2 linked regions of the Homo sapiens genome follow. The protein of the gene in region 1 purifies or fractionates together with the protein of each later gene. This does not show direct contact. Each region holds a gene or a part of one and is shown in the gene's direction. Other genes may lie near its edges.

Region 1 (3,819 bases):
CCTCCGCTACAGATCCAGTCAAGGTCAGGAATGTAATATAGTGGTCAAGTCTCTTTAGCCTTCTTTAATCTGGAACATTTGTACAGCTCTTCTTTGTCTTTTATGAAAATGATGTATTTGAAAAATACAGTCCCCCCTCTTCTCTCCACCCTCTGTTTTAGTAGAAAACATTGTTCGTTTTGGGTTTACCTGGTGATTCAGTTCATGTAATGCATTCTCATAGGTGATGTGTCCTTCTCCCTACTAAAAGCATATTATGTCTATCTGCCCCTCTGGAGGTGTTAAATTAGAACACCTGGCCAAGGCATTGTCTCTCCACTCTTGTATTTTTCCCCCTTGTAAATAATTTAAGCATTATAAATATTTAAGACCATGCGGATATCCTGCTCCTTGTCAGAATTTCCTCCTAGACGTAGAATTCACTGATGATTCTCTCCTGATCCAGTCTTTACTCTGATAGTTGCAGAGTGCTGACTTTTCCAATTCTGGTATTCCTTCTACATTTATCAACCAGCACTCACATTCTGCTGTAAGCAAGAGGCCTCCCTTTCTCCCCTGTTTGTACCTGTGTAGACTCATGAAATCCTATCTTCAGTGGTTTATAATGTATCACTATACTTAGTTATTACGGTGCTTGAACACTGGATGTTCAAGCTGGGTCTTGCAGCGTGTCCCTACCCTTTTTTTGAGCCTCTCTTTACTTGCTGGTATAGCATGATGCTCATCTTGTATGTTTCCTGCTTTCAGCCTGCAATCAGCCATTTCTTTGAGGAGCTCTGGTTCCTTTTAGTAAATAATGGTAATAGTAGACCCAGAATGGGGTACTAGATGTGCTCATTACCACTGGAGTGTTTTGTTTTTTGGGCTTTCAGCAAACAGAACTAGGAAATCAGGAAATATATGCAAATATATGCATACAGCCATACAGGCTTGAATATACATGCATGCACATATATGTGATTTAGAAATCATAAGTTCACACCAGTACTGCAAATTCATCCCAAGGTTCATTTTCGCCTTCTTCTCTTGCTTATTTTTATGTCCCTTTCTCTAGGAGAGCCCTGAGCCCAACAAAATCAACACATTTACTCAGGTTCTTAATACATCTAAAGTTGTTTCAGAATCGCTTTGTTCATACCTCTACAGAAAACCTGCTAACAGTTGAATTATTTGTACCTCTTCCCACTGCCCCGCCTCCAGCTTTCCCCAGACTGAATGTACTTACGTAGTCAAATACGTTTCTAAGTTGCCTGGATTACTTCTGTATTTCTTTTTTGTTCTCTTCCTGCGATTGTGGTATTCATGGGAAATGCAAATAGGTTGATTTGTTTTGTTTTAGCAGTTTTTCTCCTTTCCCATCCTCACTGATGTTTAATTTTATTCTTTGAATATGTAGAATATTATGTATTTTGTATAGTAAAAACTATTAAAAAGGCTATATACTCGGAGTCTCTCTCTTTCTCCCATCCCTTCTGCTCCATTCTCCACACTCCTCCCTTGTAGGTGATGAACCTCATTGTTCTCTGGTTTATCGTTGCTATAAAGAGAAACACATACGTGCTTGTTTTCCTGTTTTCTTTCCTACACGAAACGTAGCATGTATATTACTCTTTTTCACTTTGACCTTTTGACTTTAGGATATACAGATTGCTCCATATCAATTCAGAAGCGCTCCTCGTCCTTTTTCAGTACTCCGTTGTGTATATGCTCCAGTTTATTTAACCAGTCTTCTGTGCTTGGAGATTTATGTAGGTTTCCAGATTTTGCAGTTACAATTAATGCTATAATGAGTCACTCTGTGCATGTATGTTTTTTATATTGTTGGAGGTGTATCTTCATTATAAATTCCTAAAGTAGGACTTCTGGGTAAATGCATATGTAGTTTTGATAGATATTGGCAAATTCCCCTTAAAAGGGGCTGTGCCAGTTTGCATTCCCAGCAGTGTATGAGAGTGCCTGTTTCCTCCACAGCCTTATCAACAGTGTATTGTCAAGCTTTGAACATTTGCTAATATGACAGGTGAGAAGTGGTGTTTTACAGTAGTTCTTATTTATCTTTCTCTCATTATGAATCAAGTCGAATGTTTAAGGACCATTTAAAAGAATTGTTTGTTCATCTTTTTACCTGTTTTCCTGTATGATTTGTAGTTTATTTTTCTTCAGTTTTTGAAAATGTATCAGTCTTTTGTTGCATATGAGTCATCATTAGAAAGCTTCCTCTATACTCAGGCCAGAGAGGCATTTACCCATGTTTTCTGGCATTTGTACAGCTTTTTTATATTTAGAGCTCTATTCCATATGGAGTTTATTCATGTGTGTATGGTGTGAAGAATGGGATCTAATTGTATCTTTTTTTTTTTTTTTTTTTGTGAGACGGAGTCTTGCTCTGTCACCAGGCTGGAGTGCAGTGGAACGATCTCGGCTCACTGCAACCTCTGCCTCCCAGGTTCAAGTGATTCTCCTCCCTCAGCCTCCCAAGTAGCTGGGATTAGAGGTGCGTGCCATCACGCCCAGCTAATTTTTGTATTTTTACTAGAGACGGCTTAACCATGTTGGCCAGGATGGTCTCGATCTCTTGACCTCGTGATCCGCCCACCTCAGCTTCTCAAAGTGGTGGGATTACAGGTGTGAGCCACTGCACCCAGCCTTAATTTTATCTTTTTCCATATGGCTTCATAGTTGTTACAACACTATTAAAAGGACCATCTTTTCTCTGGTAATTTCAGATATCATCTGTATCATTAATTTCTGTGTCTACCTGGGACAATGTCTGGACTTCCTGTTCTATTCCATTTGCCTGTCTATGTACCAGGACCATACTATTTTAATTATAGACGTTTAATAATATATTTTAATATGCAGGTTGCCTTCTTCCTCATCTCTGCAGTAACTGTCTTCATGGTTTCATAGCCTTCTCCCTGATACCCCTCCCCAGGTACTAATTTTTTCTCTTTAGTTTTGTCTGTCCTCTGCTGATTTTGTCTAACTTTTCATAATAAAAAAAAGTTTTACCTAACTTTTGTCCTACTTATGAATTTTTCTGTCTTCTTCAGAGATTTCTTCTGCCCTCTTGTTTGTTTTTCCATGACTGGGTGACATTGTTTAAAAACTGATTGGTGTTGCCCATGGTTCTGTGCATCATTTCACCCTGCCCTATGCTAAGCTGTTATGCAAGAATAGAAAAGCTCATTGTTCCATTGAAAATCCAGGGTTCTAGCATTTTAACATTAGTTCCACAGGGGCAGAAATTTTGTCATATTCATTGTTGTATCCCTAGTACTTAAAAACCGGTACATGGCACATGGTACCTGTCACACAGTATGTTGTCAGTAAATGTTTGTCAAGTGAATGTTGTTCATTGTTATTCCAGTTTGTTTTTGTTTTTTTTTAAGAGAGTGAATAGGTGTCCTTTTCATTTTCTTGGTTTAGTGTCACATTTGAAGACGAGCACTGAGGATGAGGAACCAACTGAAGAATATGAAAATGTTGGAAATGCAGCATCTAAGTGGCCAAAAGTGGAGGATCCTATGCCTGAATCTAAGGTTGGTGACACATGTGTTTGGGATAGCAAGGTAGAGAATCAACAGAAAAAGCCTGTGGAAAACAGGATGAAGGAGGACAAAAGCAGCATCAGGGAAGCAATCAGCAAAGCCAAGAGTACAGCAAATATAAAGACAGAACAGGAAGGTGAGGCATCTGAGAAGAGCTTGCATCTGAGCCCACAGCATATCACACACCAGACTATGCCTATAGGACAGAGAGGCAGTGAGCAAGGCAAACGTGTGGAGAACATTAATGGAACCTCCTACCCTAGTCTAC
Region 2 (4,462 bases), on another chromosome or scaffold:
AGGGAGTATAAATAGGTGTATACAGCTTTTTCCATAGCTCTTCGATTCATAATCCCTACATTTTAGCTTGTGTGAAACAGTGCTGGAGTGTGGATGTGTTTGAAGAGACTGGGAGGGGGATTGCTGGCATGGTGGGGGAGGGTCAACTCGGTAGCTTTGTCGAAGGAAGTGGTATCTGAACAGTTAGTTTCTTGGTAAACTGCTTGTTTAAGAAAATGGGGGGTGGGGTAGGCAAGTCTGGTGGTGCATTTTAAGGTTTTAAAATAGCGATATTTTATATTTTAAAGGAAATAAAGTCTTTTTAGTTAATCTATAATATTTATTATAGTATTCGATAAGGGCAGAAATACTGTTGCCAGCATCTTGTAATCAATCGTTTGAACCAGTTTGAAAGGTAAAGGGGGTAGGCATTTTGAAACTGGGGGTCAGTTGAGGAAGGACAGTAGGAGCTTCATCCGTTGTTACATTTTCGTTTATTCAACTCTTCTAGCCATTGGTAGTGGACTTTTAAAATGTCAGGGTACAAGTCAATATGATATGAATTTACCTTTTTTCTCCCACTTGTCCTTCTTTCTCCACCCCACCCCCTGCCCGCGCCGGCTTTTTTTCTCTCCCACCTCTTTCTTTGACTCTGCTGCCGCCTATCCTGGCGGCTCCTCTTCACCTCCCCTGCCTGGCGATCCCCTCCCCCTCCTGCCCTATGTCCTCCAGCTCTTGGGGAACAATCGCCACTGATTGAGGTTCACTCTATGTTAGGCTGGAAAACTGGGCTGTTATTTAGGAAGTCATTAATCACATCTCCTCCCCCGGAAAGAGATGGCAGAGAAACCTGTGAAGTACAATTCCTTACCAACCCCCTCTAAAATTTTCCAAAATGGTTTACCTAAACACAATTTGACTATATGAAGGTGAAAACGATTTTTCTAGTAGGATTTTATTTTAAATTTGAAAAAATTTCGGGCATAATCAGGTAATTTATGTGCCTCTGCCTTTTCCTAGGTGTATGTTTTCATTATCTAAAGTTTCATGGGGATGTAATTAGGTTTAATTAGATCTTTTATAAATTATATATTTTCCTCTAAGAATTGAATTAAATATGAAATTAGCGTTCCAAGCAGGTTTACTGCCATGGAATAGCTGAATTCTTAAGGGGAAAAAAAGCGTTAACATCGGTTGTTTTATTTAAACGACCCCCTCCCATGATTTTAGTCAGGCTTGTGTGTAAGGCACGCGTGTGCACATATATGACTGCCTTTTTTTCTAAATCTATGATTCACAAGGTCCCTCCATTGTGTTTAAGTAGAAGCACGAAATCAGCATTCTGATTTATCCTAAAGAAGCGTTCCAAATTGTCTTTAAGATAACATGTTTGAGTTTTTCGTGTTCATTCATAAATTATTTTGATGTCAGCATAGATGAAATGGCGATTGGTTATCTCTTCCTCTTGCCAGCCCCTTAAGGATACGAGGTGAAATTAGTAGCAAGAAAGCATGTAATTGACAAAGTCACGTGTGCTCAGGGGGCCAGAAACTGGAGAGAGGAGAGAAAAAAATCAAAAGAAGGAAAGCACATTAGACCATGCGAGCTAAATTTGTGATCGCACAAAATCAAGATGTTAGATTGATGCAGAAGATCACTCCGTTCCAAAGGGAAAGTTTTCATCTCACGAGTTTGGAGCTGAGGGCCCGTGGGGCAACATGGCCGAAGGTTAATTTTCTTTTCTATTGTTTTACTGTGAATTTCTTTCTTCTTTTCTCCTCCCCCTCCCCCTCTCCCACCCTTCTTAGACCGTCCCCCCCTTCCCCTTTTACCCCAATACTGGGCATTACCTCCCAACCCCCCATCACGCAGTGGGGCTTTCTGCAAACCTATTGTTATAGATCTCCAAAAATGTTTTGTACCGCCCACACTGATTCACAACTTGAAAAGCTTTCAGGGGGCTATTGTTTGAATTGTGTGAGTGTGATTAAGCGCAGTTTCAGTTAGTGATTCCAAGAAAACTTTTATACACCTGCCCCCTCCCCCATTCCACCCCAACTTTAATTGAAAGTTATGGGGGGGAGGGGAATGCACATTGCAAATAACGCTGGATTCAGTGCTGCCCCATGTGCCTTAACTAGTAGCTCTAAACCATCTTCACGATTTCTCTTTCCTCCTCGTGCCCGCCGGAGAGAATAGTTTCGCTGAAAATTTCTCTTTGTCAATGGGATCAGTATTAAATCAGCAATATACAAGTAAAGTATCGCATGCTGTAATGTAAAATGTGGCTGAAAAATGGAGTTAAATGAATAAGTACACGTATGTATAGAAACGTGGAAGTTGGTGTGATCGATAGAACAGTGTGGCTTCCCCCTCCCCCGCTTTCCTTTTAACCCTTTTCATTTTAAGTATTTTCTGTGGAGAAAAGAAATCAAACCATTAAAAAAAATTTTTTTTTTCTGTTACCCTTCCCCCCCAACCCCAGGCAGGCAATTTTTTTTTTTTAATCTTTGAATGCACATTGAATGGGAATACAGACTGACTTTTTTGTCCTGTTCCTTCTCAGGCGGGGCTAGCAAAGGTGGTGGAGAAGAGCCCGGGAAGCTGCCGGAGCCGGCAGAGGAGGAATCCCAGGTTTTGCGCGGAACTGGCCACTGTAAGTGGTTCAATGTGCGCATGGGATTTGGATTCATCTCCATGATAAACCGAGAGGGAAGCCCCTTGGATATTCCAGTCGATGTATTTGTACACCAAGTAAGCCAAACTTTTTTGTCCCCCTCTTCATCTTTTTCCATGTGGAGGAGCTGATCGGTAGTTATGCCAATAGACGTACGATAAGATGTCCTTCGGTATATTGAAAGACAAAATCTTCCCTGAAATCACTAGGTAGTCCAACGTTTAGGGTACGTGTATGGGCCTTTTCCTGGGTTTTCTGTCTAAAGAGAAAAGAAAATATTTGAAATTTCACTATATATATTAAGGTTGACGTTATTAGCATTTCCCCCTGCTTCATTCTACAGCGAAATAGTGTTCTTGTTGTTTCCGGTATTACCTATACAATATACTTTGTCGCCTGTATCTGGTGAATGGGTAGAAAAATGAAGAAACATGATCATTTTAAGGTTGAAAAAACAAAGCGAAACAGTTTGCTGTGGAAAGAAATGTATAGATTGCCTTATTTTAGACACCTCTAGTCACAGTAGCTCCCTTTATTATTTCATCGCTGCCTGTCCTGTAATCATTTTGTAGATTCAGATCAAAATAATTTGACTTCATAGTAAAATAAAATAGAACACTGTTGGCCTAATGTGGTTGTAAAGAAATGCGTGCAATAGAGGGATGCTTGATAAACATTTTAGAAATGTGCTCCGTGTAGTCATTGGTCTACGTATACTGTCTCTTTAAGAGACTGAACTCAAAAAAACATGTGGCCAGAGGCGGCTCTTGCTTGTGTGTTTAAAATGTGCTGGTCTGCTACTTGGGGTAAATTTCCACCTTTGCTCGTATTGTGTTGTAATTTTTAAAGATGTTTTAATACCAAACAGAATTTCATTGCTTCCCATTTTCAAAATTTTACCCAGGAAATAATGAATTAATACTTCTGCCTTTACTCCTCTCTACTGCTTAATCCCTTTATAGTAAAAAAGATACTTTTATGGAAGCCGGTTGTTTCCTCAAAAAAAGGTAAATATAAATTTTCTGTAGTTAGAAATAAAGAGGTTTACGACTAAAGAGGTTTATTTTGGCATGATAATCTAAGTTAAAAAGAATTGAATGAAAGGCTGTTAATACTACAGATTGACTGACAGATACATGGGTGAAATATTTGGTATATTTGCTTGAAAAGTATATATTTGATACTGTGTTGCATGTTCCTAGTAATATTTATACCCCCTTCCCTAAGGAATATCATCTTCAAATTAAATATATAAACAATAGAAACATATGAAACCATTCTGTTTTGATCTGTTGTCCTGTGGTGCTTGGTAGCTTCCTGACCTTGCTGTGTGGTGTGTGTTTTCCTTTCCTGAAGGCCTGGCCATCATTATTGGCTGTTTATATGTGGAAGGATCAGCATAATCTGTGAATTGAAACAGGGTTTAAGTACACAAATACAAGTCCACATACAGACTACTGGATTTTATGCTTCCTATTTTATAGTGCAAAATGAAGCTACATTTTCTGTTTTTTCCCCTCTAAGACTGGATGACAAAAATCATAGACAAATCCATTTTCTCTCAGGCTCTTTCTTCCACCTTTGAACCTTCTTTAGGTTGTTAAATTGTTTTTTATGATCTCATAAATTTGTTTTATAGATGAATGAAAAAAATAACCCTTCTTTGTCTGGTCACGCCTTTTTATAATTTGATTTTCTATGTTTACCTTCTAAAATATTCATCAAATGTTAAGATATTTTATTAACCAATGTTAATGTTTAGAACAACAAGACATTTGTGTTTATACTATTTAATGATTATATATT

What was found.
Region 2: the proteins of ZFP62 (region 1) and LIN28B purify together in Homo sapiens (co-immunoprecipitation; one large-scale study listed by IntAct). This does not show direct contact.

Annotation. Positions count from the first base shown.
Region 1 is NC_000005.10:180,851,104-180,854,922, reverse strand, and holds part of ZFP62 (zinc finger protein 62 homolog), read left to right. Parts: intron 1-2,862; exon of another isoform or gene 2,863-2,935; intron 2,936-3,429; coding exon 3,430-3,819. UniProt on the Homo sapiens protein: May play a role in differentiating skeletal muscle.
Region 2 is NC_000006.12:104,955,554-104,960,015, forward strand, and holds the start of LIN28B (protein lin-28 homolog B), read left to right. Parts: upstream 1-1,553; 5' UTR 1,554-1,697; coding exon 1,698-1,707; intron 1,708-2,545; coding exon 2,546-2,733; intron 2,734-4,462. UniProt on the Homo sapiens protein: Suppressor of microRNA (miRNA) biogenesis, including that of let-7 and possibly of miR107, miR-143 and miR-200c.